Homo sapiens: one gene and its partners. The protein of the gene in region 6 interacts with the protein of the main gene of each other region in a pairwise test. Each region holds a gene or a part of one and is shown on either strand. Other genes may lie near its edges. The genes, in order: GRM1, ADD3, SLC9A9, SCGB1D1, DOK5, OPRM1 and SERP2.

Region 1 (4,326 bases), 7.6 Mb from region 6:
GGAGCCTCAGTTCTGCATTCTTACTGCAACAGAATGTGAGATTTAAGAAAGGGAGAAAAGATTAAGAAAGGAAGAGAAAGACATGGGGGAAATGGAAGAGACAACTCAGAAAACTAGAGGAAGATATGAGAGACAGAGAAAGAGAGAGAGAGAGAGAGAGAGAAAGAGACAGAGAAAGGAAGAGAAAAGAGAGACAAACAGGTCAGATAACTCACTTGGCATTCCCTGCCCCTGCCTTCTTTCTTCGGAAGATGTTGAGGAAAGTGTTGGAGCGGCAGGGCAGCTTGCCATCGCCAACATGCATGCGGACAACATCAGAGGTGGTGAAGGCACTGCGGACATTCCTCTCAGGCTTGGCAATAATGATGTACATCTTGGGAGTGAACATGCACCCCAGAGCCACTGTTACACTGAGACTCACTGCAAAGCAAGTTGTGATGATCTTGTAGTTGCTCCCAAAGTAAATGGGCACAAAAGCTAGCCAGATGATACAGGTGGTGTACATGGTGAACGCGATATATTTGGCCTCGTTGAAGTTGGCGGGCACGTTGCGGGTCTTGAAGGCATAGTAGGTACAGCTCATGATGAGGAGTCCATTGTAGCCCAAAGGGGCCACCACACCCAGGTTGCTGGTATTGCAGATAAGGTAGACTTCCTTGATACTTGGGTAGGACAGAATGGGCATAGGGGGTTCCATGATGATCAGGGTTACCACCAGGGTTAGTTGCACACTAATCAGAATTGAGGCAATGATCACCTGAGCCCAGGCACTCATGAACCTGGGCTTCCGGGTGCAGATCTTCTTCTTGCTGCCAGCCAGGATGCGTGCAATACGATTGGTTTTAGTCACTAAAGCAGAGTAGCACATCGCAGAGGAGAGGCCAACCAAGAGGCGCTGGAGGTAGCAGGAGGTGGTAGTAGGTTTGGCAATGAGAGTGAATGGGCACACATAACCAAGGAAGATGCCAGCTAGGATGATGTAGCAGAGCTCCCGACTGGAGGATTTGACCACTGGTGTGTCCCGGTACAGTACAAAGATTAGGGTGACAAACAAGGTAACAAGGATTCCCAGGCATGAAAAGGCGATGGCTATAATGGATTCGATGTTGCTCCACTCAAGATAGCGCACAGGAATGGGCTCACAGCCTGTGATGAGAAAAATCATTTGAGCATGAATCCAAGGTTTCTGCTAGGAATAACAACTTGCCTATTAATTACCAGAGACACAGTCATCTTTGCATCCTTCATGATTTACAGCATTTAATGCTTTTTTAAAAATGCACACTATTACACAAATAAAGATACATCATTGTCTTACCTGGACAATTATGTCCCCAAACTTAATCTTATTACAAGCCTAATGTGACATACTTGAACCTATAAAAATGATCTTTTCTTCCAACATCAGCATTATAAATAGATGTCATTCTGTGAATGGGACTCGGTTCTACATGTTCAGAAAAAGAAAACACCCAAATAAAACTTTATTTCCAGTGAGGGTTAAATGGTGATAATGGGATAGAATAAATTATTAAGAAATAAACTAACAAAACTTTTCTTTTGATGCAGCCATTGTCTGTAGGCAAGTCCAGCTCATAGACAAGTCGTTTTTGGCCAGCAGAGTGTTTTCAATGTAAATTTCATGGACTTCTTTAGAAGAATCTGCATTCTCCTGTTTCCTGCATAACTCTATATTATACCTTAAATCTCACTCTTCTCATGAATCATGAATGATCTGTATCTGAAACCTGAGGGCCTTTGAGTTAGTAACCTCTAGTGGACATATCCAGGAAGAATGAAATCTCCCCTAACCCATCTCTTGAAAGGAAAGACTAGAATTTGTTCCTAAATTCCTGGCTTATCTTTTCCTTCTAGATGGAGAATAAAATGTATTTTGTATTTCAGAGTGAGAGAAAAATTTGTCAGGCTCTGGGACAACCCCTTCACAGAATTTTGTAATCACAAAATATTTGGTCTGGGCCAATATTTCCCAAATTGTGAGAATAAAGTCATTTCCATAAATTTAGGAAAAGACTCATTGTTCTGTAGCCATGGCAACAAGGAACCACCAGAACCAGTGCTAAACCTGTCAGTCAATCAACAACTTGCCTCAGTGAACATGTGTTTGGATGCCAAGCAAGCACTGTCAGCCCTTACTTCTGATAATCACTCAGGCAGGATCAGAATCACTTCAATAAATGAGTGCCAACTAATCAACAGTCTCATGTGAGTAATCGTATTGCTACAGGTGATGTCAACCAGCTCTCAGAAGCTGCAAGGTTTTCAATCCCTAAACTCCACACTTTCTAAAAACTCCATATAAAATGAATAGTCTTCTGCTCAGAGAAAATGTATCTGCCTAGCATAACTATCCCTTACTATAGTAAGCAATTTGTTTAGCTTTTGTGCTTTTTTTTTTTTTTTTTTTTTCTTTTTTTTTTGAGACGGGGTCTCACTCTGTTGCCCAGGCTGGAGTGCAGTGGCGCAATCTCAGCTCACTGCAAGCTCCGCCTCCTGGATTCACGCCATTCTCCTGCCTCAGTCTCCCGAGTAGCTGGGGCTACAGGCACCCGCCACCATGCCCGGCTAATTTTTTGTATTTTTACTAGAGACGGGGTTTCACTGTGTTAGCCAGGATGTTCTCGATCTCCTGATCAGCCTGCCTCGGCCTCCCAAAGTGCTGGGACTACAGGCATGAGCCACCACACCCAGCCAGCTTTTGTGCTTTTTAAAAAAAATTTTATGTATTTAGTCTCACCATGTTTCATATTTCTAGAGGCTTCACCAAGATAATTTTGAAGACTCCTTATTTGATAACATTCCAGGAGATGCTCTGATCAACAGGGTCACTCACTGGACCCCCTCGTGCCCGCATTCTGTCCTTCCCATGTACTAGCATGAGAGTCATTCTCAATAATTTTCTCACTCTGGCTAATTTTACTGAGCTCTTGTTGCTGAATTTATGTAGTTGTCCTAGGATTTGTAATCATGTAGGTCTTTATATAGAAGGCACTTAAACTTAGGTCTTTGTGTAAGGTTATTTCACCTGTATCTTTATATATTAAGTCATATAACCTTTGGTTTTGAAATGCACCATTTGGTAATTAGACATAAGCTTTTTATTATGTCAATAAATAGTTCACTTTAGAGATACACAATTTGATAAATATTTTTTTCCATATCTGTTTATTCCCTTGCTGTTTCTTTGCTTTTGCTGTTATTTACATACATACACAAAGTCTTATTTTATGGGTCTTTTTTGTTTGTGTGTTTGTTTCGTTTTGAACCATATTTTTCTGTTTTGTTTGTGTGTTTGTTTTGTTTTGAATCACCTTTTTCTGTTGACAATATAAGGGATAGTTCATAAACATTAGAGGAACATGTAAGCCTAAGAAGTGTCCAATCCAAGCTGGCCCTGAGTGCTAATGTTTGGAGCTCCTTTAAATTGATAACCAATTTGCCAAAAGTGGTAGGTCACTCAGCCTTAGGTTTCTTAGAAAACCTTTACAAGAATACTTCCCGTGTTGTCAACTTATGAAAGATCACTTTATTTTAGTGATTGTGTGTTGCCTTCCTACACTCCGTTTGCTTTGGGAATCTAAGACACCATTGGCAAGCACACACTTTTGACAGAACTTAGTGGCCTCTCTTCCTTGTGTATCAGAGATTTGTCTCTGTCTAAATACAAACCTTTTTCTGGAAGAACTTATTCTTCCTATATAAAGTCACATACTAATCCTAATTTTATTTTTGTTTTCCCAATGCAGGCAAGACAGATGATACATAGATGATAAATATATATATATAGACGATAGATAGATAGATAGATAGATAGATAGATAGATGATGGATAGGTAGGAAAATAGATATTTAAAATAACATTGGCCATATGGGAACTAATTTATGATGAAATCAATAAATTAAAATATTTACAAGGAGCTCTAGACAAATTAGGAGATAAAATACCACAGTGAATTGTCAGTTTCTTTAGCTGTCATCCTGCAAACAAATTTTCCAATTCAAAGATGATTTTTGTCAAGGCTTTGGTAACCTTCTGAATGCTACCTTCTTTTCATTTCATTCTTTTTCTATGCAACTTTACCTGACTCTCTAAATGAAATACTCTGTCATCAGAGATTTTACCAGAAAATAGTATAACATTTTAAACTTTCTAGAACACAAGTCAGATCTATAGAAGTTGAATTAAAGAAACTGGTATAAAGCCAAATTAAGACCTATAGTTAATAATTTTCCTAAACTTCATGAATACAGAACATAATGTTTGCTATAGAATTTGGAAATTTTATTAGATACTTATTGTCCATA
Region 2 (4,326 bases), on a different chromosome or scaffold from region 6:
AATCCCAGCACTTTGGGAGGCCGAGGCGGGTGGATCACCTGAGGTTGGGAGTTCGAGACCAGCCTGACCAACATGGAGAAACCCCATCTCTACTAAAAATACAAAATTAGCCGGGCGTGGTGGCGTATGCCTGTAATCCCAGATACTCAGGAAGGCTGAGGCAGGAGAATCCCTTGAGCCCAGGAGGTAGATGTTGCGGTGAGCTGAGAATTGCGCCATTGCACTCCAGCCTGGGCAACAAGAGTAAAAAACTCTGTCTCAAAAAAAATAAAAATAAAAAAACTGTAAAAGAAAGGCAAGGTAAGAGGTACACTGTTTTCACCTTTAAAAAGTTGGCTGTGGAAATAAGGAATACGAACAATGCATCAACTTCATTGCAAATCCCTTTCTACCTCCCATTTGTGCAGCTCAGGCAATGAAGCATTCCACTCATCCAAGGCACTTATGCCCAATCACAACTCCATTTGAGCTCTGACCATTGCCATTTTCCAACCACCTCCTTAGATATTAAAAGGCTGACCTTCTAGAATTTTTTTGTCATGTATTAAGACAAATGAGAACAGAAGTCACGATGCAGCTAACAGTTGCTCACTCTAACTTCCTAGGGCGTAAAAGTGGAGTGTTCTTAGAAGTCCCTGGGGAGGCCTTGACTTCCAAATTTACTTCCTTAGATATACCAAGTAAGCCTAACTATCTTCTTCAGGAGGATGAGTAAACCCAACTTTCTGCTCTAGCATTTAGTCATTCTAGCAAATCAAAAGATGATAGGATGAGAATATTGAATGGAAAAGGAAAACAGAAATGCTGTCCTTGCTCAGGATGAGCTGAGCCATTGTGGAAGAACTGCACAGAAACACTGCTAATGGTGACAAAGACATACACCGAGTTCCCATGACACTAAAAACTCAGCACTTCTCCAACCTGATTGCTTTTACATTGTTTGAGTTCCACCTCCTCTAGTAGGTAACCAACAAACCACCACAGAGGCAGAGTTAAACAGGCTGAGTCACTCACATCAGCACTCTCCTCTTTCATTCCATCTGAAAAGGTGAGCACTTCCTTTGGTGAGGGAGGGGAAAGTAAGAAATCACAAGAATAAATTTAAAGAGGTATGGAAGCTTAAAAAAATAATTTCGTGTATATTACTTGGAGTTAGGTTATCCTGCTTAATCCACTGCTTGCCTTAACGTATCTGTGATCACTGTTATTTTATTGTTTCACTAATATAGTATACTTCTTGAGACACTGGTTTTAAAGACATTATGTTACTGTCCTTAAATTTCTCAGAAGTGTTTTTACCTCCTAGCTGGTTGAGGGAAATGTTTATCCTATGGAAATTGCATATGCCCACTGCAGAAAAAATTGAGTTTCATAACCCTAGATTAAAACCTTAGCCTTGGCCGAGTGCAGTGGCTCACGCCTGTAACCCCAGCACTTTGGGTAGCCGAGCGGGGAGGAACACTTGAGGTCAGGAGTTCAAGACCAGCCTGGCCAACATGGCAAAACCCCATCTCTACTAAAAATACAAAAATGAGCCGGTAGTGGTGGCAGGCGCCTGTAATCCCAGCTATTCAGGAGGCTGAGGCAGAAGAATCGCTTGAACCCAGAAGGCAGAGGTTGCAGTGTGCCGAGGTCACACCACTGCCCTCCTGCCTGGATGACAGAGAGAGACTCCATCTCAAAACAAAACAAAACAAAAACCTAAAAATCCAAAAAAACCGTAGCCTTGTTTGAAGAGGTAGTCATCTTAAATGCCAGTTTATGTACCGTATACAAACCAATCTCCTCAGGCCCATTTTCATTGAAAGAAAAAAAAAAGTAAACATAACATATGGTGCTGATGCAGATCAGTCTGACTTCAAGTAAAGGCTCAATTTAGATCTAACCTTACCTTAAAGATATAAACCAGGCCTGTGGCTCATGCCTGTAGTCCCAGCTACCTGGGAGGCTGAGGTGGGAGGATGGCTTGAGCCCAGGAGTTCGAGACCAGCCTGGGCAACATAGTGAGAGCTGTCTCAAAAATACAAAAGAAGAAAAAAAAAAAAGATATAAACATATGCCAAGGCCTATACATCTTGTACAATAACGGTTCAGCTTTTAGTGGAGTTAAAACTAAGCAATATTATCTTCAAGAAACAAACTTACAAGAACAGTAAGCCTTTTAAAATCAAAGAGAGGTTTCATCCATTTTATACCTTTTGGTGATCATGCTACTACTATTTGGATTATGCTAGACAACTCTGAAAGCCACATTCATTCTTTAAGGTTTCTAGGATACTCTAAATGTATTCCTTCAATGCAGTTAAGTAATGTCCTAGAAGCCTGAAAGGAATTGTTAACGCAGCTTTTCAAACATACTCAACCAAAAACAGTTTAAGGAAACAAGGGGCTCTGATTCTCATTATCTGTGCTACCATCTAAGACTTTAAGTTAAACAGTACTTTCTTAACATTTAACATGTTTTCAACTGGCAATTCAATTTTGAACTTTGAGACTGGTCCAGATATTCAGCAACATTAAAATACACATGAAATAAATAAAAGATCCACAAACCTTTTTTCTCCAACACTTTTTTCCCACATAAAGGTATTACTCTATGCATACTGTTGGTACTCAATAAATATTACATTAATACACCAGGTGAATAATTTTTAACTTTACCTAAAAGGAAGAGAATCCCTCAAGTAGCATGGTTTGACATACGTATACATAGACACACACATCCATAATTAGCTACTGCAAGAATAAAAAATAATCATATTCATCTAAGGGATAACACACTTTTTCGTTCAAGCAACAGCCAATGAAAGACTTCTAACCTGTATGTTTTAGAGGATTCTTGATATATACAACCCATTACAGTAAAAAATTACAGTAAAAATTTGAGACTGTCTTGGCATTTGGCCAAGAGAACTGAATCTCTGGCAGAACCTGAAAGACCTCATAACAATCTCACCTATAAACACTCTGGCATGGACCCGGAGTTCAAACCATAGAGTATTAACAAAGAAGACATAAAGTATTAAGGCACTTATTTTGAATCTCAATGACATGACAGTCTAGGACTGTCCAATTAATTTTAAATTGGGTTTAAATAACTTCAAATAGGTCTACGTTTAAAAGGAAGAATAGCACTCGATTAGATATTTAAAGTTTTTTTAAAAATTCAAACTCTACATATTTAATATTTTCAAAGGAATCTGAAAAGCACTAATTATAACAAAAACAGTGTTTAGTGTGAGAAACAGATTAGTAACCTGTGTCTTCAATAAAGCTTGCACTTTCTCAATTCAACGCATGCTTGTTTTTAAACATTTTTTCCTAACATTACATTGCACTAAGTTGTCAAATGACATTTCATCTATCTACAATAATTCTAAACATTACTTAAAACAGCTCCTAATTTAGTTTATAATTTGTTTGACATATCAACTACAATGGTGAAGCAGCAACACACAGTTCCTTGAGGAATGTGAATGACAAAGTATAAGCCACAAGTTACATCTTTGCATTTAGGGTTCATTTTAGGAAGCAACTCAGGTGGTATTTAGAACAAACTTAAGTTAAAATTTATCTCAGGTTGATATGATGTTGGTAATCAGAAAGGTGATAAGGTTTACTGATTTACTGCAGAACTGGAATCTCCAATGGGAATTAGTGCCCTCTGGGCCACCTGGGGCCCTACATATCTGGTAAGCTTCAAAAAAAAAAAAAAAGACTTTAGTATCTTTAGTAATTAGAAAGATAGCACACTCTAGCACAAACTCTAGCACCCTAAACATATGTTGTGTATCAAAAGAGAATACCCTTTCAATGTCAAAAGGTGACTGTATTTAATGCGGATTAACCACCACTCCTTAGATTTAAGCATAACTTGGTGGTATTAATACCAGAGGATGTGGTTAAACAAGACATGTGCACCTGATAGTCGTGGGAATACTATGAAGACCTCTCACTGGTTTGCAGTAATTACCATGAGCTCAATAGCAACAAGGGGCAGTGGTTACATGGGCTCACTCTTGGGCCAGACTCTGGCTTCAGAACCAACCTGTGTCACCTTGGGAAGATACTTAACCTCTCCATGCCTCTGTTTAGCCACTGGGTTGTTGGAAGGACTAAGTAAATTAAATCATATAAAACTCTTAGTGCCTGGCACAGAGGTTAGGCAAATAAATATTGGCTATTACAAATATTTGCTGAGTCTTCACATGCTGGGTAGCATGACCTAACAGCCTTCAAAAAGATATGTCACTTTACATACTGATAATGATAAACACAAAAAGCACTGAATACAAACCCCATTCTAAGCACTTTACATATAACAAC
Region 3 (4,326 bases), on a different chromosome or scaffold from region 6:
TGCATATATATGTATTCTCTTACTAGAAATTTTGAGTATCTTTCAGTTATCTTGAACTATATAGATCAATGAAAAGACATATTTTAGTGATGTTTAACTTTTTCTTGGCATAGAATCATAATTGTTAGGATGTCAAAGAATTTTAGAGGTTATCTTCTCTATCCCCTTTATTTTAGAGAGGCAGAAGCTGAATCCCAGAGAAGTGAAGGGACTTTCCAAAACTGAATAGCCACTCATGACTGGTCCATGTGCTTTCACTCATCTGCATGTCTTACTAAGGTTCACGTTCACCTGAAAGAACTCTCCCTGTGTTTTCTGAAAGTACTCCATATGGGTGGCATTCATGACTTGTCACATTTCTTCTTCAGGGATGTCCTAAATGTTATATCTTAAATGCTTATTAGGAACTTTCTATCAGTAATGTAATAAAATAGTCTGAAACTACACCAGAGGAACATGATGGGATACTGTAGTAAACACTTTTTAATGATAGGGGAAAGGAGATGCCAAGTGAATTAATTGTCCAACAGCTATAAATGAACTTGGAATCATAGATGGGGAAGGAGCCTTAAAGATCATAAATCCAGCATTCTCATTTTGCAGACAAACAAATGAAGACTTAGAGAGATAAAAGTCGTGTAATTAGTTAGCTGTTGAGGTGGGATTCAACCTCCATCTCTTTAATAAGAGATGCTAAGATATTTAAAAATAAGTAAATTATTGCAATAATTTTCCTGGAGAAAGGATGTGTCTGTGGGATCTAGATGCATCCTCATATGGTTAAGCTTTCAGGATTAGCCAGATTCTCTTTTCCAGGAGGTCTAAAAGAGTGAATTTTCAGCATCCCACATTGTACTATCCCCCTTTCCATTAAAGGATTAAACTCTTAGCTTTTGCAAGAGCAGGGGGGCATGGTGATAACTAATGGGGAAGAAAAGAAACAAAACTATGTTTAAAACTTAAGCTTTTTGAGCTATGATTGTGCCACTTCACTCCAGCCTTCACTCGAGCCTAGGTGACAGAGTGAGACTGTGTCAGAAAGAAAGAAAGAAAGAAAGAAAGAAAGAAAGAAAGAAAGAAAGAAAGAAAGAAAGAAAGAAAGAAAGAAAGAAAGAGAAAGAAAGTTAAACTTTTAAAATTTCTTGTTCTTAAGGAAGTGAACATTTGAGAGTAGACTGTAACAGTCATCTCCGTGCTACAGACACATATGCTTGTAATGAAATATATTTTAAGATTTAGTGGACCTGCACCTAATGCTTATCAATGAATTTGGCTAGCAACTCCCCTACTCCACCGAGTACTGTTCTTGCTCTCACTATTTGTATAATGTATTACTTGTCCTGTATCAAGAATGATAAATGTTTTTCCCCAGCATCAAATTTCCTATAATACTTCAGCCTATTCTGCCATCTGCTTTTCTGCCAGTATTCCTTTGACATGTGTCAAATGTTCTTTAGAAGACTCGATAGATGTTGAGTCTATTTTATCAATGTACCTGAGAGTCCAATTTAAAAATTCTAGAGAACAGGGGCTTAGAAAACAAGCAGTTTAAAAAATGCAGAGAAAAGTGATCAAGCAGAATGTTTAATGTTCTTTTATATTTCTTGTTAGAAATAATTTTCAAGTTGCTAATCTTAAAATATCATATGAACACTTGTAGAGACCAAGAAAAATTGTGTGGCATTTGGCTAGACTCTGTGTCAATCAGAGATTCATATGATACTCCAAATAGTATAAATAATCCATTATATAAAAAATAGGTTTTTCTTATTATTAAGGGTCATAGGAAGCTTATAAAAATTAGTGGCAGCTTTATAACCATATTTTTGCTTCACCAGGAACAGTAATGGGTAATCTATTATGATATTCGATGGTTCTCATTTCAAAATTGAAGGATTAGAATCCATAACTGGTTTAAAATATAAGCCATAATGATACTCATTTAAATTGGACTGGAAGCATAAATGACAATTAGCGGTTAAAGTATTGATTGACAGCAGCTGGTGCACTTAGTACCACTCACTTAGGGCCTGTATCCCCTGTTCAGTGCTCATAAAAGAAATTTGCTCCTTGCTCCCTGACAGCATTAAGAATTCCATTATATATCACTGGGGGCTGCCATACTTTACAGGACATTTATAATCCTGTGCATTTGAGGGCTGGGATCTGAGCTTAGGGACAGAGCAATTTAAACCTCTTAGAATTCTGCCTTTGACTTCCTGGCCTTCCCATAGAAGTTAGTCTGAATTCATGTAAAAATTGTGGCCACTGTTTAGTGGGCACATAACAAATTTCAAGGCACTAAGTTTACATTTTGAATTCATTAAACTATATCATATTAAAGCGTTTTCAGATTCTTTAAGAATGTGCTTAACAGTTAAGTAGGACAAATTTAATTCACTCAACACCAAGTTTTTCAAGATTTAAAGAAAATACAGTTACATAGTGAATCATCAAGGATTGAAAAATTATCTTTTCTGAAAAATCTTCTGCAGGCATTAATTTCTTCCTAGCACTCCCTGCAGGTTCCTCAGGATTAAATTGGGTTGTTGGACATGTTGGCTACACCCTCCTGATCCATTTTACCCTCCTCCAGGACAGCCCAGCCTCCCTGACTGCCAGGCCTATGGGAGATGCTTCCTACTACTTCACCCCCTTCCCGCTGGCTGAAGGTCCTTCCAAGGCTCTACTTATTCCACTGTGGCTTTTTTTATAGAGAAAATATTGATGTGCTCCCCTGGAGATTTAAGTTTCTTAATCTTGATGATTTTTTTTTCAGTAGCTAGATGCATTATTTTGGGCAAGTGATGTTACATCTGGCCTTATTTTTCTCATCTATAAAATGGGGAAGAAAGGAACAGATATCACATGTCTCCCTTCCAGCTGCAAAAGTCCTTCAAAATTCAGGCCAAGACTGAGTTCAACCATCAGGCATCTTTCAGCCACTCCAGCCCAAACCAGAAGCTTTCCTTCCAGAACATGGCAGCCTATAATGATATCCAGTCTGTTCTCTCAGACAAGATTTTAGTTAGTGTTATTTCAGCACTGTTAGTACTTCCTGCTTCTGCTCTGATTTTGCAAGGAGTGCTCAGTAAATTCTGTTGAATTCCTGTCAGAAAGGTGAGGAGAACAAGTTAATAGTGAGGACTGGCTATGTATTCCACAGTTTGCAGAAGCATTTTTTATGAAAACAAGAGTAGCTCTGGTTTAATTTTAAGGGATCTGCAGGAAAGGTAATCACGGTTAGGAGCCCAGCATACTAAACTTCTTCTCCCTTTTGGTGTAAAAAACTTGATTTTTAAGGAACTTCAGAGAGTTGTACAATGTTTTCCATGTGTTAATACATTTGCCAGAGACAGGGAAAATAATGGAAGAATGAAAGTCATACTGCACTCTGTATGTTTTTTTATGTTTTTGGGGGTTTTTGTTTGTTTGTTTGCTTTTTTGAGACGGAGTCTCGCTCTGTCACCCAGGCTAGAGTACAGTGGCACAATCTCGGCTCACTGCCACCTCCGCCTCCCAGGTTCACGCCATTCTCCTGCCTCAGCCTCCTGAGTAGTTGGGACTACAGGCGCCCACCACCACGCCTGGCTAACTTTTTTGTGTTTTTAGTAGAGATGGGGTTTCACTGTGTTAGCCAGGATGGTCTTGATCTCCTGACCTCGTGATCTGCCTGCCTCAGCCTCCCAAAGTGCTGGGATTACAGGCGTGAGCCACCGCGCCCGGCCTGCACTCTGTATGTTTTTAAAAGTTGATTTTAAGAAAATAGCCGGGCCAGGCATGATGGCTCACTCCTGTAATCCCAGCACTTTGGGAGGCCGAGGCAAGTGGATCACCTGAGGTCAGGAGTTCGAGAGCAGCCTGACCAACATGATGAAACTCTGTCTTTACTAAAAAATACAAAAATTAGCCAGGTATAGTGGCGGATGCCTGTAATCCGAGCTACTCGGGAGGCCGAGGCAGGAGAATTGCTTGAACTCAGGATGCGGAGGTTGCAGTGAGCCGAGATTGCACCACTGCACTCCAACCTAGGTGACGGGAAGACTGTATCAAAAAAGAAAAATAAAGAAAAGAGCCTCTATATTTTGGATAAGTAAACTAAATAAATGAATAAACTATATTCTGAATCTCAAAGAAGCTATAGATGAAACTTTACTGCAAACTACTGTGGTGCCTCGAAGGACTCCCCCCTCAGTGTTTGAAAGGCTAATGAATGTGCATATCAAGAAAATAGATTTATGATTCAAATTATTTATGTAGATATCATATACCATCTACATTGAATTAATGTTACATAGTTAATGAAGTGGGGATATGGAGAGCTGA
Region 4 (4,887 bases), on a different chromosome or scaffold from region 6:
TCCTCATAGAGGGGGGACAGAGCAGAGCAGCAAGAGGTTATTGTCTGGGCTGTCCCAGGACTTGGAGTCTCCTGTTCCCCGCAATGAAAGACCCAGTGCTGAGAGGTTGGTCAGGGCTGGGAGGGCCTCTGGGAAGCTTGGCTTCCAGGAGACTCCAGCCTCCCCATGTGGGAATTCTGCCTCAGGGCCTGAGCACCTCAATCCTGAGCCTGCAGCTTCCATGAGCATTTGCAGCTAAACCTCAGGACAGCAACCCAGAGGCAGCCAGGCTGAGAGGCCCCTGGAAAACCTCTGATTTCTTGAGAAAGACAGAGTGAGAACATCCCGCTTCCATGGCACTGCAGGAGGTAGAGTAGCGAGGGTCTTGGCCCACTGGCCGTGGTCAGGAGAGCATCGTGGGTGAGGAGGGGAGCGTGGAGTCTGAGGAGCTGGGAGGGGCTCCTTCCTGGTTCTGCAGAAGCTGCAGAGAAGTCCAGCCCTCCAGCGCAGCATCTGCAGGAGCCCCTGCTCTAGGTCCCTCCCTGCCTTCTTCTCCCTGTTCAAGGCTCCCACACTCCCCAGTACATTCCACAGTGACTGTGTGAGGTCCACTTGGCCTCAGGAAAGTCCCCAGGTGGAGAGACAGTTGTGCTTGGCCCTTCACCACCCCTGCCTGGACCCAGGCTCACTCCCCATGTCCTCAGCACACTCTGGGGACACGGCATCCAGGTAGGTGACCTGAGAAGGAGGAACATGCAGGAGGCTGTGTGCAGCTGAGTTGAATTCTGCAGGTGAAATGGTAGCACCCACCCTGTGGTCCCAGGTGACCTTCTCAAGCGGTGACCAGTAAGGCAGGTGCCCCACCACCTGTGTCCCTCACAGAGCAGCAAGCAAGCTGACCTCACTTCACACTGTGCCGCTGACCAGAAGCCTGGACACATGAAAGAGACAGAAATTACCAATGTTTTTGTAATTAGCACTCTTTTCTCATAGGCCATCGTATCCACGCATTTCTTCACTTCCATCTTGGCTGCAACAGCTTCCAGAGGTGCCTTAAATTTGGCAAGTTGGAACTTGAACACAGGTTTTCCAGCTAATAAGAAGCCTGTGATTTCAGAACCAAGAGCTTGGCAGACCACTGCATTTGCTGGAGCAAAAGAATAAAAATATAATTTGTGTAAGGAAATCAGTGTTTCTCCCATGCCTCCCTGATGTCAGACCAGACAGGAACCCCAGGGTTTTAGGCTTCTATTCAATAACTATGCCAATGACAATGTCAGACCCAGGAGGTTGTGACTTCCTTGAGGTCACACAGCAAAGGGTAGAGCTAGAACTGGAGAACCAACTTCCTGATCACTCATTCAGTCTTTGTTTTTTTTTTAAAGCACACTCATTACTTTCCAAAGCTTCTCTGGATGGATGGCCAACGTTCTCTTTTCTAGATTTGAAAATAATCACTTTTCTATGCCAGTTAAGTGACACTTTATTAGTCTTGGACATTGGTGAAGAGGAGGCTTTGAGTAATCAAATTTTGAAGTGGAATGGTAGAGTCAGAATCCTATCAGAAATTAGAGAAATGAGTAAATCTGGAACAGAAGAAGTTAAAATTATTGAAATGTTGAAGGTGATGTTTTGAGAACAAGTTGTAGAATTTAGGCTTATGTGATTCAATACAGACAGAGCTAAAAGGTAAACAAATTAAAACAAAATAAAATAATGTGAATCAGTTTTAACACACATTAGAAGCTTATACAGGAAATTGTACTTGGCCCATATTCTGCAGCAGCATCTAGAATATTTGGAGAGGATGAGAGGAGGGAACTGAGGCTCATTCCTGCTCCCACTGGGAATTTTGGAAAGACCTGGAGTAATCATTTTGCTTGGTCTGGAATCTCCATTCACCTAAGTCTTTTGCAAACACCATGCATCCAGAAAGCGCCCCACCATGCTCAACATGACCCCTGACTACCCGACTTCAAACTGTGGGGAGAATTTGGAGAGGGTAGGATCGGGGTGTCACAGGGAAACAGGGAGAGGTTCAGAAAAGAAGAGGAAAGAGAAAAATCAGAGTCTGGATCGGTCCTGACAGGGGAAAGGAAAGTACCCAAATGAACTGGGGAAAAATCAGCCAGAATTAATTTTAGAAAAATAGAAGTTCTGAGGCTAACCATTGTAGTATTTCTACCACCATTACGGTAGGACCCCTAGAAGATATATTGAGTGCTGCTTATTCTAAGAATTCATTTGCAGGCTTCTTATTGAGAGAATCAGAAAGCACCATCTCTTCTTGGACTGAGAGTTCTCCAAGGATCCTTCGAGATGTAACATTTTATGAGTCTGAATTTACAATGTAAGAAGCTGTGAGCTCAATTGGCACCTAAAGGTCTGGGGACGAGAATGTCTGACAGTACAGTGATTGGCTTCACATCCACAGCTAGACCCTTGGCACAATAATCCCACTCCATTCCCATTGCCACTCCCGGAAGAAGCTCTAAGCACCAGAGATAGGAGGAGGCGCGGGGAGGGTGAGCATCTTGCCCACGGTGAAAGGGCTGAGAAGTGGCTGAGCCCAGAGTCACCCCAGACCTCACATTACATCATCTGACACAGATCCCATCCAAGAGTGAAGCTCAGGCAGAATTCCTAACGTTCGCCTGCATTGATTTTCTGCAAAACTTCCTAGGTACTGGGGATTTGATGAAATGAGGCCCGAGCTTTATGAGCAGTTCCTTCAACAAGCACAGGATAAGGTTTGGAATTTTGGTTTGTTCCAGACCCCAACCTTAACCTTAATAGGTGACCTCGTGCTCAGAGAAGGGTGTGTCCCAAGGGCTGGTGCTGGACTCATGACTGATGTACTCACCCCGGTAGCAGCAAAGGGCCAGCGTGAGCAGCAGGAGACACACCGACAGCCTCATGGTGGCTTATTCTGCTGTGAGCTCGGCTTTAACCAATGATGAGTGATTTAGACTCAGCCCCGGGAGCCTGTGGAGCCGTGGAGCCCAGGGCTATTTGTACCTAGGGAGCCTGGCTGGTCCTGCCCACATGGGCATCTGGCAGGTGATGAGGCCTGGCTTCCAGCCCTCCCTTCCTAGCCAGGGCTGCTGCCATCCATCAGTGTCACATCCCCACACCTCCCTGCATCCTGAGTGGGGCGGAGCACGGGAGGGCAGCCCTGCAGAAACTCTGCTCTGTGCTCCAGGTGAGTGTCCAGGTGCCTCTGGCAATGTTCCCTGGAACCTCAGTTTGCTTTTGGGCTTTTGAGGATTATCTCTCTGTTCTTTATGTCAGTGCAAGGGCAAATGTGAGTTCTCATTTCAGGAGGACAGAAACCGGGGGTGCAGGAAGCTAGGGGCTGTGGTTTGGTTATAGGAGAGCAGGCACAGAAGAGACCCCACTTTGACCTCCACTGCATGTCTGACAATCAGCCACACGTGTTTCAGCTGCACATAGATCAAGTCTGAACCAGACCTATCCTCCCACTCAGCCCCTTCCATCCCCACCATCTTCACCACATAGGTACCTAAAACATAGCTGCATACACCCCACCTTTGGAGGATTTCCTTGGGGAAAACAACCACTCCCCCTGTCCTCTACTCTGTCTCACTCCAAGATCTGTGTCTTTATTTATGGGTGGAGTTGTCAACATAGCACAGGTTCAAATTTTCTGTCTACTAAAAGCAAGCCTCCAGTGACCTCTAGCCACCCATATCTCCTCATAGGGCTGATGGGATGATTAAATTGCCCAACTTTTTTTACCCAAGGAGCTGCTGGGGTGTCTGGAGGCAAACAGGCATCAGAAATACTGGTCTTCGCTTCTAGGCAGGGACGATAATGGAAAGGAAGAGATGGATGAACAGGGTGGGTGGTCACTTCCCTCTAACCTCTGGGCTCAAGTTTTCCACTTCTAACCCAGCTCTGCTGCCTGGGTCATCTCATTGTTGATGGAAAGCGAAGGCCATCCCCAGCAAAAGCAATAGACACCCTTCTGCCCTTCCACTGCAGTGCCATCATTTGGTGAGTAGGAAATCACCAGAAATTTGGCTCTTAAGTGAACACACATTTGAGAACAGTCACAGCCCAGGCCAGAGCTTTCCATTCTCTGCTCTGCAATCAAATCACTTGGGGCTCTTAAACTATACTGACTCCCCGCAGGCTGCTTCCCTTTCTGGGGATTTTGATTCAGTAGTTCTAGGGCGAGGTCCTCTTCTGTTTAAACTGCTCTGGTGGGTCTGATGGGCAGCAGTACTGAGAACCACCCAGAAAGACCTTTATGAAGGAAGCGGACCTTATGGTCTGTGTCATCAGAGACACCTTGGCAGGTCTGGCTGAGTCCCAGCTGAGGGCGACAATGCCTCTCACTTCCATCACCCAAAATGGTGGGGAAGCCCCTGATGCCACCTCTGCCTCCAACCCTAAGGAGTGGAAGGTCCAGTGGCAAAGCCCATGGCTAGGAGGGTTCAGATCCATGTCTATGGGCTATTGAACCCTCTGAAAATTAGTTTATGTAAACACAGTTTTCTCGTTTGTAAAAGTAGGTTAAAAATGGTGCCTACATCATTGGGTTGATAGATGTTCAAATGAGTGTGTGTGTGTGTGTGTGTGTGTAAAATTTACCAGGTCTGGCCAGGCGCAGTGGCTCACACTTATAATCCCAGCACTTTGGGAGGCCGAGGCGGGTGGATCACCTGAGGTCAGGAGGTTGAGACCAGTCTGGCCAACATGGTGAAACCCCGTCTCTACTAAAAATACAAAAAATTAGCTGGGTGTGGTGGCATGTGCCTATAGTCCCAGCTACTCAGGAGACTGAGGCAGGAGAATCTCTTGAACAAGGGAGGCAGAGTTGTGGTGAGCTGAGATGGCACCACTGCACTCCAGCCTGGGCAACAAGAGCAAAACTCCATCTCA
Region 5 (4,326 bases), on a different chromosome or scaffold from region 6:
TGGGTGAGTTGGGTCTTTCATTCATATAGTCCACTTATAATTATTGAGTTCTCAATATGTGAGGGGTTCTGTGTTTGACTCAGGGAGCACAATGATGAGCAGAGCAAAAACAAAACAAAACAAAAACTATTCCTGCCCTATGTAACTCTCACTTTTCAGGCAAGATGGGTGTGAAACCAATAACAAATAGGAAAGGTATAGGACATCATTGGATGGTGTAGCCTTGAGACTGACTAGGTGTTAGGATGGGAGGTGTCCAGTGGGGCCTCTGTGGGTAACTGAGATTTAAACTGAGACCCATGTGGGAATGGGAGTGAGGTAAGGAGAGATAGAGAAGGCCCTGTGCCAGGAGAACCACAGTGTCTTCTGGGAACTGAACAAAGTCCACGGTGGCTGAGACATAGAGCACATGGGAAAGGTATAGAGAGGACAGTGGTGAGATAGCGTGGGCAAGACCACAGGGGGTCTTGGTGGTCATTCTAAGGATGCAGGCTTTTGTCCCACGTGCAATGGGAAGTCACTGAAGTGTTCTGTTTATGCACAGTAATATTTCAAGACTTATGTTTTGAAAAAAAAATCTGCTATGTGCAGCATGCATTAATGGGGATTAAAATGGAAGTGGAAAGATCAATAAGTAGTTGTGACAAGATGATAGTGGCTTGAATTGGGGTAGTGGCAAAAAATAAAAATAAACAAACACATCAACAGTTGTATCTGGTGAGTCCTGAGGCACTTGGTGTAGTTGGAGAATAAGATACATGGTGCTGAGTCACTGACGTGATCGGTTTGGGCACTTTTTGAGGAGAAGTGGTGTGACATTTCATGCTAAGAAATTTGCATTTATACTATGAAAAGGGCTGATGGAGATTAAGAAGCAGAGAAATGAAATAATCAGATTAGTGTTGTGCATGGAGGATATTTATTTCACTTCCCACCTACTGCTTGAGCTAAGCATTTATTGAATTTAGAGTAACAGACGAGAGAAACGGAACAACATCATTGCAGGCAAAGATTGATGGAAAGTGGATTCTTTTGTATAACAGCACAAAAGAGATATATGAAAGGGAGGTTAAACTTGTCAGTGTGAAAAGCTATTGATCTTGTAAATACTTACCCTGAAGCCACCTAAGGCTTCGCTCAGGCATGACCCAAATATTCCAAACCTCCAATGCAGCTGAGGATGCGGATGTAACTGGATGAGAGATGACCACTGTGGAAATATAATGAGCCAAGACACTTTGTGGGAAGGGAGGGGTTTACAAAAGTGTTAAAGGAGCCAAGGAATTATGGGAGAGAGGGAGGAGAGAGAGAACGTCTAGTGGGGATGGCTTTCCTCCCTGCTAGGAAGAAGGCGCCACTGGGTAGTGTTCTCAGAGCCTAAAACAGAGGCCCTGTAACCACTGAGGAGCTAGGAGTAAGTTAGAGACAGTGGGAAAATATTTGGAAAACCAAATTCATTATGTACTTTCTATGATTTGGACCTCAAGTCAGGGGTCGTTTCTGAGACTCTTGACGCTGTATCTCTGACTGGTAAAGAGTGAAATAATCTAGTTATGAATTGGACCACTCTTCCTTCCCTTCCCTTCCTTGGGTTGATGTATTTAAGACACTTACATGGGGAATACTCTGAAGGGATGGAATATTTGGAGGCTTTTGCAGCCAGCTGAGAAAGAAGGCTGTCCACAGAGACCGAAACAGACATAAGAACTATTGGTCAAGTGGAGTCTTTGGGAGGATTTGAAAAACTAAAGAAAAAAGAAAAACCAAAATGTTCTACCTCTGTGAAGTTTTAAGCTTGTTCCACTTAATACGTTTCAGAAAATTTAATAAGGAAAGATAATTTGTTAACCATCCTTGCGGTGTGTTACAGATAATACTAAACTCACTTAAATACATCTTAGCTTTCAGATGTAGATACTTTTTCAACAGGTTGTGCTCAGCTGTGCTGTGCCATACTGATTTCCGGGCCTCACCTTTGGTGTTGTATACTGGAGACATTCATTCAGGGAGTGTGTCAAACTTCTAATTGTTCATTTTCAGGTTACAGAACTCAATAATGTGAAGAACGTAGCTCGATTGCCAAAAAGCACCAAGAAACATGCCATAGGGATTTATTTCAATGACGATACCTCCAAGACTTTTGCTTGCGAATCAGGTTTGTCTCAGGCAGGGCTGGGGGGCTTTTGCTTTTAGATTCTGAATGGATGCTGGGCACACAGTTTAATCTTTTTGACATTTCCACAGATCTTGAGGCTGATGAGTGGTGCAAAGTACTCCAGATGGAGTGTGTAGGAACACGGATCAATGACATCAGCCTTGGAGAGCCTGACTTACTGGCCACTGGGGTTGAGAGAGAACAGAGTGGTATGTAAAGAAAATTCTCTCCTCTCTCTTTCAAAACTGCTTCTGTCTCCATATGATAAAACATAAGACATCTTCATTATGTAAAGTTTTTGGGGTATAAAAATGTATAAAGAAATAAGTAATCTTTTATCTAATCCACAACCTGTGTTAACATTTCAGTGTATTTTTTTCTTATTCTTTTTCCAATTCATAACATGAATGTATCTACATTAATAATATCAGTTAGAAATTTTGGGGAACCTGCTATGTGCCAGTTTGGTGGAAGATGCTTAACTCATCTCAGATTATTTATTGTACTTTTCATAGCAGCCCTATGGTGTAGGTATAATTACTTCCTACGTTTTGCAGATGAGGAAACTAAAATTTAGAGGACGTAAAGACTTTCCTTCAATTCTGTTAGCTCACTAGTGTTTGATTCTAGACGATACCGTTGGACCTATATTACAGTTTACAGATTTTAAAATGTCATGGGCATTTTTTGGTCATGCCTTTTTCACTTAAAATGTTATCAACAACTTTCCAATGTTTTCAATATAATTCAAACTTTATGACTATTTCACCAAATTTAAACCCATCTAAAATCTGTAATTAAAAAAATACATATTTTATTGAAACACTTGAGCCAACTCTGAGCTCAGCAGTCAATCTGGGAATCAATAATTTAAAATAATAATGACTAAAATATTCATGAACACTTCAGCAAAAATCAGTGTTGATTTACAGAACAAACCTGGATGTGAGGAATCATTCCTTTGTCTCCTAACAGCTGAGCCTGGGGACGGGGTAGATCAGATCACAGAGTTCTGCTGTAGGCTGACTTGATCTATGAGGGCATGTCACCATGGAAAGGTCTGTGGGTCATCTGGTTTGATTACGGACATGGCAGAGATGGAATTGTACTGACTTTTTCTGTAGGTGCACACTCCAATGTTAGTAAAAAAAATGCTGTCCCTCCCAATTGGAACTATGTCTTCATGACACATTTACAATCTGTGACTCTTTGGATGCACCATATCTGCCATAACCCATCTCCATGGAAATGTTATTGACCGAGACCTAGAAGCCCTGGGTAATTCAGAGGAGCCTCTTTGTAGATTGGAAAATTGAGCTACAGAGAGGTTAAGTCATTGACGGGGTTACACAACCAATCCCCAGGCTCCTCCTTCTCTGGTTCACTAAATCAGGACACCCCAGGCAGAGAGGATACCTAGGAGCCAAGCATAAAGAAAACCTGGCAGGTTTTGATTATGATTCATTTTTTCACCTAGAGTGCTCAGATCAGCACTTTTCACAAATTTGTATTTGGGGAAGCAGTATCCTGACAGCACCACAATCTGAATTTAAAAATTGGCGGTGCGTAGGAGATACCTTTCCCACAGCAGCTTTCTGTGCCTCAGTTTCCTCTTCTGTTAAATGGAAATAATAGCTCTGGTCTACAAGTATCAGGGATTATTATAAATTCAACTGTGTCCTCTCAGGCCCTTTCCAATGTTAATTAGTATGACTTCAAATGATTGTAATTAAAATGGTCACTCCACCATTATTGCTATTACTCTTTTTAAATTTTTATTATTATTTTTTCCCTATCTCTCCCCTATTGTTATTCTTGAGTGAGGTAGGACTCAGAGAACTTCTAAGCAAATAGATTGATAATGATCTCTCTTACTTTTTACTTAATATAGACAGTCTTTCTTACTTGGAACTTTCAAGGGGGGGGAATATGCTCAATTAGAATACATTTTTAAATATGATTACTAGAAATCAACAAATATTTGTTTATTGAGAATATGAAATAATTAAAAATTTTTGAATAGTAGATCGCGGAACACATTTCATGAACACTATCTCAGCATTACTATTTACTAAATTCAACTAAAATCTATGAAAATTCAAATGACTATCTTATCATAAAACAATGTATTTAGAATACCACTAATATAAAATTGTTAATGCCACATTGTC
Region 6 (4,326 bases):
AGCCGAGATCGCACCACTGCACTCCAGCCTGTGCAACACAGTGGGACTCCGACTCAAACAAAAAAAATAAATTAAAAAAAAAAGTACTAGGGGTAAATACCAAGACTAAATGGTGCATGTCATTTTAAAATACAAGAATTCCAAGTCTTTAGTCCTCACTAAGTTTAATGTTTATCTGACTGAAATAATTATCTGTGACAGCAGTCTTCAAACTTGTTTTTAGATGTAGACACTTATTTCAAGAACTTGGGACCCAATATATAAAACAGATCACAGAACAACTGTCCAGATGTAACCACATGTTGAGACCAAGAGCACTGCTCACCTTGCACCCCCATGCCACCCACCAGTGCTGTCCCCAAGGGACCACCATAGAATTTCTAGGGCTCCACCAGGCAAAATTTGAAAGCAATGGCTTTCACGTTGTTTCATATCCTTCTCGTGCCCACCTCATGTCCTTCACCTCGCCTTCTACCTCAGCCGTTGATATGGCAGTCAGTTTCCAGACATAACTGAGTAACACTTCACCTTGGCTGCATCTAAATCACTTACTTTCTGCCCTAGGGCTTCTCTACTGGAGTAATTGCCCTCCATAGGAATCAGCCTGGCACTCACAAAGGCACTATTTGGAAGTTCAGGAAAGTTCCCTTGACCAGGAAATGGAAGCCTGTGGAAAAATGCTGCCCTTGCTCCCCTCTCTCCTGAGGTGTACAATTCTGAGGTGCCAACTACAAGGCACATCAGAAGGCCCCGCCCACATTGTGACCGTCTCAAAAACATGCCTCGTTTTCCTCTTCCCTGGTTTACTCTTCTAGTTTCCCACTCCTTGCCAAGCAACCACTTTTCAAAATGGTTCACCTTCACACAAGGTCGTATCTCACACTCTGCTGAATATCCTTCCTGTTATTTTATAATTGGTGACTATACGTTAGCACAGTAAAATCTGTTTAATAAATAGAGCTCTTACAGACCTATCAATAAAGGTTTTCTCTTAACTATCAAAAACTCGTAAGAAAAATTCTGATAGGCAGCACCAGTTAGAACTACCAAGAGAGTTCAGAAGCTAAGCTTTTCCTTCCATTTTTGTTCCTGCCTTGGGATTTAGGAAAGGCTTTTTTGGGTAGGTTTGGCTGAATGGAGAGAGAGTGGGCACCAGTCATGTCCAGTGTTCAGTTTACTTCTTCTTGAGCTCAGGATAATAGGAGCAGAATTGTGTGTGCCATGTAAAGGAAATAAAGCCTCCTGTGCCTTCTGGCAAATTATCTGAGGGTATAAGAAAACAAACAAACAAAAAATCCTGCCACTCCCTTTTCCATTAATTTCATGTTATATAGTAACGTTAAGAGTATCTTGTGATTAATTGAGCTCAAGAAAATTTCAGTCTTCAAAAGTGAGCTGAAGCATCAAATGCAGGAAACGTCATATACAACAAGCATCATATACTGAGCTTACCAAGCAACTCCTTTCTTTACCCATCCTTTCTTGCCTCAGGTAACTTTTTTTCTTTCCCCATCAATTTCTCAGATACAAATTTAGAAAGGAAGAACAGCAAGGAAGAGAAACCTTGCCCTGGCTCAGGGCCCCAAGTGTCAGTTGTGGCTCGACTTCAAGGCACTCTGCGCCTCACTCTCCTTATCTGTAAAAAGGTGCGAATTGGACTAAAAAAATCTTAAACGCTTTCTAGTACTAAAATGTCCTATGGCAACTTCAATGACTATTAAGAGCATGTTTTTCCCAGCAATACAATCTGGAGGAAAAGAGGAATCATCCACAAAACTAAACAATCGTGGTTGCCATTCCATCACAGCCCTTTGGATTCTATATAAGCTCAAATAGGTTCTGTCAAAGGGAGAAAGAGTGAGTGTGCTCTGAACTGCCAGGTGTGGTGTTTATGATTAGGACAATAAGGGAAACAGAAAGTTACAGTCAAGCCTTTATTCATATGCTTCGAGAGTACAGGCAAGTGGTTAAGTGGGAAAAGGTGCAACCCCATCATGTTTCATTCCCCCCACCCCCACCCCACAGAAGCCACCAGGTGAGCATCACATGTTTGAGCAGAAATGCAGGAAGGAGAGGGAAAAGTCATCTTCTTACTGCACTGGGAGGCCCAAGCAAAAGGTCCTGCTGTTTTGTGTACCTGAGGGCCTGGGTGCAAGATGGGGAAAGACAAGGAATGAAAAACAGTGAGTCAGAGTATGTGCTGCCTCCTTAAGGGTTAGGAACGCATAACCTAAAAGCGTGACTGGCAAAGGTGGAGCGTGGGCAAAATTCTCTCTCTCTCTCTCTCTCTCTCTCTCTGTCTCTCATTCTCTGTTTAATTTTTAGGAGATGGTTTTAATATTTGCCTTTAGGTATTAGTCCTATCCTGGATGTTGTATTCCAAATCTGATGCAAAGAGGTTCCACCAAATCTAATCAAGTGAACTTTCGTAAACCAATGGATAGGGCTTTCCCATAAGATGAAGTGTGTGATGGGTTTAAATGAGAGAGAGATCATTCTGTTCTGGATATGTGTCTGTCCAGGCAAAAATGTTGTTAAGTACAATTTTTGTTTGTTTGTTTTTTGTTTGTTTTAAATAATATGTTAGCTTATGCACTGTATGTAAGTAGGTGTCTTCGTGTGTTCAGGCTGCTATAACAAAGTACCATAGCCTGGGTGGCTTACAAACTACAGAAATTTACTCTTACAGTGCTGGAGGCTTGAGGAGTTCATGATGAAAGCACCAGCAGATTCTGCATTTGCTGAGGACCTTCTTGCAGAGACAACTAACTTCTCCCCATTTCTCCACAAGGCAAAGAGGCAAGGAAGCTCTCTAGGGCCTCTTTCATAAGGGCATTAATAGTGTTCATAATGGCTCTGCTCTCATGACCTAATCACCTCCCAAAGGCCCCACCTCCAAATACCATCACACTGGGGAATAGGTTTTCAACATGTGAATTTGAGGGGAACACATTCAGTTTACAGTAGGTGTCCTAAGTGATTCAAATATTAACCACTCATATTCACTGAAAACCATTAGTGTGATTTAAATTAACGTTTACGTAAATTAGGCCAACCTGATTCCTTCACTATCTTCCAATATGCTTCATGTTTATCTCTTCTATACTGTTTCCTTTATTTTTCTTTCTCTCTGTTTTCCTGTAACGTATCTCTCATTCTTTTCCTATCAAAATGTTTCTTGTTCTTCAAGTATCAACTTAAATCCATCCTTTCTTACAGCCTCTCCAAAGTACTCCTACAACCAATTTCCCTGCAATATAACCCAAAATACATGCTACCATTGTTAAAAAAAAATTATGCATTTTCTCATGGCCTTATAAAATGTCACTTGATAAAACTTAAAGACTTGAACTATATCTATCTCTTTGTGTTTAGGTGAGAAATCCAACATTCAAAGTTGACCAACAGAACTGAATATCTTCAAAATACTGTACAATTCTAAGCTATTAGCAATTCAGATGTACCTCAAATTATTCAAGTATAAAATCTAATTTAAATAATTTTCTCAATTCACTTTGTTCATGCATATTTAGCTTTTATCACTTGAGTCATGAAAAGTGATCTGTACCATAGATACATATTAGCAAATCATAAATTCAAATACAAACACATACATGTCTATATATGCATATATTCCTGAGTTTACAAACTTTAAAAAGGGAATATATGGTTACTCTTATAATAAAAACTCAGAAAGTAAAATTTGAAGAAGTAAAAACATAAAAAGTTAATATAGTCAATTCCCATTATTCATGATAGTTATGGTCCATAAAGTCATTATGACTACAGAATTCGTGAGTACTGAAGCTTTGCTTCTAGGGGATATATAGGGCAGGTTCCTGTGAGCCTCTGATTATAAAATTTTCATCAGCTAATGCATTCGTAACCTTGTTTTATGTGTGTTTCTGTTTAAAGACGCTTTATTTAATATATAGCTGATTCACTAACGTTGAACTCATGGTTAACAGCACTATAAATCATGCCTGAACAAAGCTTCTGTAACACAAGTACTTTCCTCATAAGCCACATCACAGTCTTCTTGGCTTAGGGACACTAAGCAGAACTTCCACACTATGTTTGAGACCATTTTAAACAGTGAAGTCACCACCACCACCAACAACAACAACAAAAAAACACAGAAATGTGAAAAATGTGGCAATAAATAGATTGTGAAAAGGACACGTGTTTATAGTACAAGCTGAAAGAAGACAGCAGAGCATTGCCTTGTTTGACCTTACCTGGGAACCTGCACAGAGAGCAACTCAAATTTTTTGCTGCTCTATACATGTCCACACAGGTCCTCAAATGACTGCAAAAGCCAAGTAT
Region 7 (4,326 bases), on a different chromosome or scaffold from region 6:
CTATTCCAAATATAGGTAGAGACACAATTAATACACTATCAAATCCTAATCATAAAATGATTACACTGAGTAGTTAAAGTGGCTGTATACACTGTAGAGTTCAGTAAAGTCTTTTTGTGCAGACATAGCCTTAAAAGGGCATTAGAACAGAAGGTGAAACACCTGTGTGCCTGTGATAAATCCACATTCCGAGAAAGGGAGAGGCCTTATGCCTTATGAGAAAGTTCTGCAGAGCTCCTAGATACAACTTCCTAGATACAACTGAGCCTTTGACCCAAGCCTTAAGGTATGGGTCACCTGATACTGTAAGGTGGCAAGTTGAGAGCTTTACTTACACACATGCAGATACACACATACACACAAATGCAGGGAAGATGAGCAGAAGCATCGTGCCATTGTTTCTAGTTACATGCTGAACTAGCCTTGACATGGTTCCTGATCCCCATATGTTGGGTCTCAGAAATCCTTGTGAGTGGAGGTCACTTCTTCTAACTACACAGCATGCCTTGAGGGATTCCCACCCTCCAGCATCTCACTGTTACTGAGGGCAGGGAGGCAGAAGGTCCACATCTTCCTGCTCAGGCTTAGGCCTCCCAGCAAGACAGCCTCTGCCCCAATGACAAGAGAAGCCCATGACTAAAGATGAATCATGCATTCAAACCTAAAATCATGAAAATTAAAAAAAAAATTTAAGATGGATCAGTTCCTTTTATCTTCAAGAGACCACTCTTCCAAAGAAGCAAAAACTCTTAGGAGGAAGGAAGGATCCAAAGTACTTGGCATTATTGTTGCTTGTGGCTCAAATATTTTAAAGATGATTTGGCATTCCAAGATGAGAAAATCTTACACTCAAAGAAAGACAGTTCTACTCTATTCCCAAAGAAGTATCTTTAAGGACATCTTTTAAACAGCTGTTTACCCAATCCCTATTTGAATACTTCTTCAAAAAGCCTATTCCATGTCTGCTGGAATTCTATTAGAAATGTCTCTCCTGTTTTGAATTACACTATGCTGTCTTCTCAGTTGTTCAGATTTGAACTCCTAGGGTAACACAGAATGGACTCGTTCTCCTCTAAGCACCTTGAATCATCAGATATTTTAAAGATGACTGCCTGGTGGCTCCTTCTGCAAACTAAGCTTCCCTAAATCTCTCGACCTTGCCTCATAAGATGTGGTTTCTAGACTCCTCTTCTGGATCTGCTCAATGACTTTCTTAAAGGGTAGCATTTGGCAGCGCATGCCTGTAATCCCAGCTACTTGGGAGACTGAGGCAGGAGAATCACTTGAACCCAGAAGGCAGAGGTTGCCATGAGCCAGAGATCGCGCCATTGCACTCCAGCCTGGGCAACAAGAGTGAAACTCCGTCTCAAAAAAAAAAAAAAAAAAAAAAGCCAGGCGCAGTGGCTCACGCCTGTAATCCCAGCACTTTGGGAGGCCGAGGTGGGGAGGATCACAAGGTCTGGAGTTCGAGACCATCCTGGCCAACATGGTGAAACCCTGTCTCTACTAAAAATACAAAAAATGAGCTGGACATGGTGGCACGCGCCTGTAGTCCCAGCTACTCAGGAGGCTGAGGCAGGAGAATCACTTGAACTGCAGAGGTGGAGCTTGCAGTGAGCCGAGATCGTGCCACTGTACTCCTTCCTGGGCAACTGAGCGAGACTGCGTCTCAAAAAAAAAGTATAGCATTTGCAACTGCAGAAGGTGGTCTAGAAGCAGTGTGACCACCACAGAGGCAGTAGGATTGTCACTGCCCTTGATTTTGCTCACCACTCTGCCTCTATTAATGTGACCCAGGCTTGCAGTTACTTTTTAACAGTTGCAGCACATCCTTGACTCACGTCTAGCTGATGGCCAGCCAGATGCCACCCAGCTCTTCCTCAGATAAACTTCCTGCAACCCCGGAAACACATCTACATACCCCTTTATCCCAAGTCTCTCCTGTCTCCATCACATATTATTTTATTTTACTCATGACCCTCATCAGCAGTTGCAGTTATTTAGTTTACTTACTTAGGTTCATTTCCCTCCAGTAGGATATAAGCTCAGGGGAGACAGTGTTTATTTTTCATTAAATTTGTAGATCCTAGTTTAGTATTTAGCACATAGTTAGTGCTTAGGATGGATGGATGGATGGATGGATGGATGGATGGATGGATGGATGGATAAAGCCAGATATTCCTCATACTGTAGATATCTAGTTGACCTTTTTTGAGACCTAATATAAAACTTTATGACTTTTTTTTTTATTCTCAAAGAAGAACGATTACTTCTATTAAAATTTTAGGCTGGGCGCGGTGGCTCACGCCTGTAATCCCAGCATTTGGGAGGCCGAGGCGGGCGGATCATGAGGTCAGGAGATAAGACCATCCTGGCTAACACGATGAAGCCCCGTCTCTACTAAAAATACAAAAAAATTAGCCGGACCTGGTGGCAGGTGCCTGTAGTCCCAGCTACTTAGGAGGCTGAGGCAGGAGAATGGCGTGAACCAGGGAGGTGGAGCTTGCAGTGAGCCGAGATTGTGCCACTGCACTCCAGCCTGGGCGACAGAGCGAGACTCCGTCTCAAAAAAAAAAAAAAAAAAAAAAGAACAAAATAAAAACAAACAAAACTATGCCTTTATCATACCACAGGAAAATCAAGAAAATAAACCTGTACAAAAAAGTTAGCTATGTTTTCAGGCTGTATGACCAGTCTGTAGATTGTCAGACCTTGAACTTTAAGCCTCTGATCTACTTACCCTTTTTTCCCAGTGTTATGGTCCCTGAAAATATATTATTCTTCCAAGTCACTGATAAAAGTCTAGACTTGGAGAAACCCACAGAACACAATCAGAGACAACCTCTTTCAGGTTGACTTTGAGCCTCTAAGCAAAACTCATTCAAGCAATCATCATGTCTTGAGGGTCCCCTCTGTGCCTGGCACTGTGCCGGGCTTTGGAAATACAATCCTGTTTGGGTACTTGCAGGCATTGGGAGAGGCAGATAAGGAAGCTGTCAGTTGCAGCCCAGGGAAAGCGCACTGCGATAGTGACAGCAGAGTTTACAGGGTGCTTGGCTGGCATGGATAAGGAACTTCTAAATCATACTCAGCAGAAGAGAAAGTTTCCAAGGGGAGGTGCTGTTTGAGCGGAGTCTTGAAGAACAAACAGCCAGACAAAGGGTGTGAGGAAGGTGATTCTGCATGGGAACACTATGTGGCGGTGGCATGGTGGCTTCAGAGAATGTGCTGGGCTCAAGAATATAAGGTGCTCAGAATGGCCAAAGCCTACTCTCAGGCATCCCTGAGCCCCGTGACCATGCCACCTGTATTGTCAAGGGTCTAAGTAGATAAAGATATATATAGGCTTCAAGATACACAGTAACTGTGGCCTTCTCCAGTCTGCCCCCTTAGGCAGCCTATAAGGGAAAAAGCCAGTAGAGTCATTTGGCGTGGCTTATTTTTCTCAAACCCATGCCAACTCTCAAAACCCATCTCTTCCTTTTTGGAGGGTTTAAAAAACTATTATATGGCCTAAACTTTTGCCTGGCTTACCAGCCCATGCAGCAGGACCTGTATCTTTCCCTCTTGGGTAAATTGGGACATTTGCTAACAAGCATCTTTTAGAACTCTCCTGGTCTCCAGCAGTTTCCTAGGGATTGAGTATGTTAGCTCCACCTCTCTGGAGGTTTGCGTTTTTTTTGTTTTTTTTTTTTTGAGACAGAGTCTCGTTCTATTGACAGGCTGGAGTGCAGTGGCGCAATCTCGGCCCACGGCAACCTCCACCTCCCAGGTTCAAGCGATTCTCCTGCCTCAGCCTCCTGAGTAGCTGGAACTGCAAGCACGCACCACCATGCCCAGCTAATTTTTTTTTTTTTTTTTTAGTAGTGACGGGGTTTCACCATGTTGGCCAGAATGGTCTTGATCTCTTGACCTCATGATCCGCCCACCTTGGCCTCCCAAAGTGCTGGGATTACAGGCATGAGCCAATGCGCTCGGCCACCCAGGGCTCTTTCAATGATGCTGACTTAAAGCTTTCTAGTTATAAAGCCATTTTGCTTTTATGGAGAGGTTAGACATGAAATGAGAGTTGAGCCATCTTACTTTCTCTGTCTTCTATTAACATGCTATCGTGATCCCTAAGCAATGGGCCTCATCTCTTTTTTAATCATAACTAAAAATAATTCACCACCACCTTTTTTTTTTCTTGCCAACTTTAGCAATTTTTTTGCAAGCCTCAGCTCAAGTCGGGCACTGTTCTCACAGAAATGTGTCACTCTTCTCAGCTTGTCCTTGGTACTGTGCCCTTCCTTCTATCTTTGTACTTGTCCTTTTCTAAACAGAACA

What was found.
Region 1: the proteins of OPRM1 (region 6) and GRM1 interact in a two-hybrid assay, tested with the Homo sapiens proteins (one large-scale study listed by BioGRID and IntAct).
Region 2: the proteins of OPRM1 (region 6) and ADD3 interact in a two-hybrid assay, tested with the Homo sapiens proteins (one large-scale study listed by BioGRID and IntAct).
Region 3: the proteins of OPRM1 (region 6) and SLC9A9 interact in a two-hybrid assay, tested with the Homo sapiens proteins (one large-scale study listed by BioGRID and IntAct).
Region 4: the proteins of OPRM1 (region 6) and SCGB1D1 interact in binary tests that used the Homo sapiens proteins (3 or more experiments, as listed by UniProt).
Region 5: the proteins of OPRM1 (region 6) and DOK5 interact in a two-hybrid assay, tested with the Homo sapiens proteins (one study listed by BioGRID and IntAct).
Region 7: the proteins of OPRM1 (region 6) and SERP2 interact in binary tests that used the Homo sapiens proteins (3 or more experiments, as listed by UniProt).

Annotation. Positions count from the first base shown.
Region 1 is NC_000006.12:146,395,589-146,399,914, reverse strand, and holds part of GRM1 (metabotropic glutamate receptor 1 isoform alpha precursor), read right to left. Parts: intron 1,147-4,326; coding exon 216-1,146; intron 1-215. UniProt on the Homo sapiens protein: G-protein coupled receptor for glutamate. Ligand binding causes a conformation change that triggers signaling via guanine nucleotide-binding proteins (G proteins) and modulates the activity of down-stream effectors.
Region 2 is NC_000010.11:110,010,475-110,014,800, reverse strand, and holds part of ADD3 (gamma-adducin), read right to left. Parts: intron 1-4,326. UniProt on the Homo sapiens protein: Membrane-cytoskeleton-associated protein that promotes the assembly of the spectrin-actin network. Plays a role in actin filament capping. Binds to calmodulin.
Region 3 is NC_000003.12:143,841,501-143,845,826, reverse strand, and holds part of SLC9A9 (sodium/hydrogen exchanger 9), read left to right. Parts: intron 1-4,326. UniProt on the Homo sapiens protein: Endosomal Na(+), K(+)/H(+) antiporter. Mediates the electroneutral exchange of endosomal luminal H(+) for a cytosolic Na(+) or K(+).
Region 4 is NC_000011.10:62,188,295-62,193,181, reverse strand, and holds the start of SCGB1D1 (secretoglobin family 1D member 1 precursor), read right to left. Parts: upstream 2,967-4,887; 5' UTR 2,898-2,966; coding exon 2,843-2,897; intron 1,127-2,842; coding exon 939-1,126; intron 1-938. UniProt on the Homo sapiens protein: May bind androgens and other steroids, may also bind estramustine, a chemotherapeutic agent used for prostate cancer. May be under transcriptional regulation of steroid hormones.
Region 5 is NC_000020.11:54,586,443-54,590,768, forward strand, and holds part of DOK5 (docking protein 5), read left to right. Parts: intron 1-2,040; coding exon 2,041-2,155; intron 2,156-2,244; coding exon 2,245-2,364; intron 2,365-4,326.
Region 6 is NC_000006.12:154,045,170-154,049,495, forward strand, and holds part of OPRM1 (mu-type opioid receptor), read left to right. Parts: intron 1-4,326. UniProt on the Homo sapiens protein: Receptor for endogenous opioids such as beta-endorphin and endomorphin. Receptor for natural and synthetic opioids including morphine, heroin, DAMGO, fentanyl, etorphine, buprenorphin and methadone.
Region 7 is NC_000013.11:44,379,871-44,384,196, forward strand, and holds part of SERP2 (stress-associated endoplasmic reticulum protein 2), read left to right. Parts: intron 1-4,326. UniProt on the Homo sapiens protein: Interacts with target proteins during their translocation into the lumen of the endoplasmic reticulum. Protects unfolded target proteins against degradation during ER stress. May facilitate glycosylation of target proteins after termination of ER stress.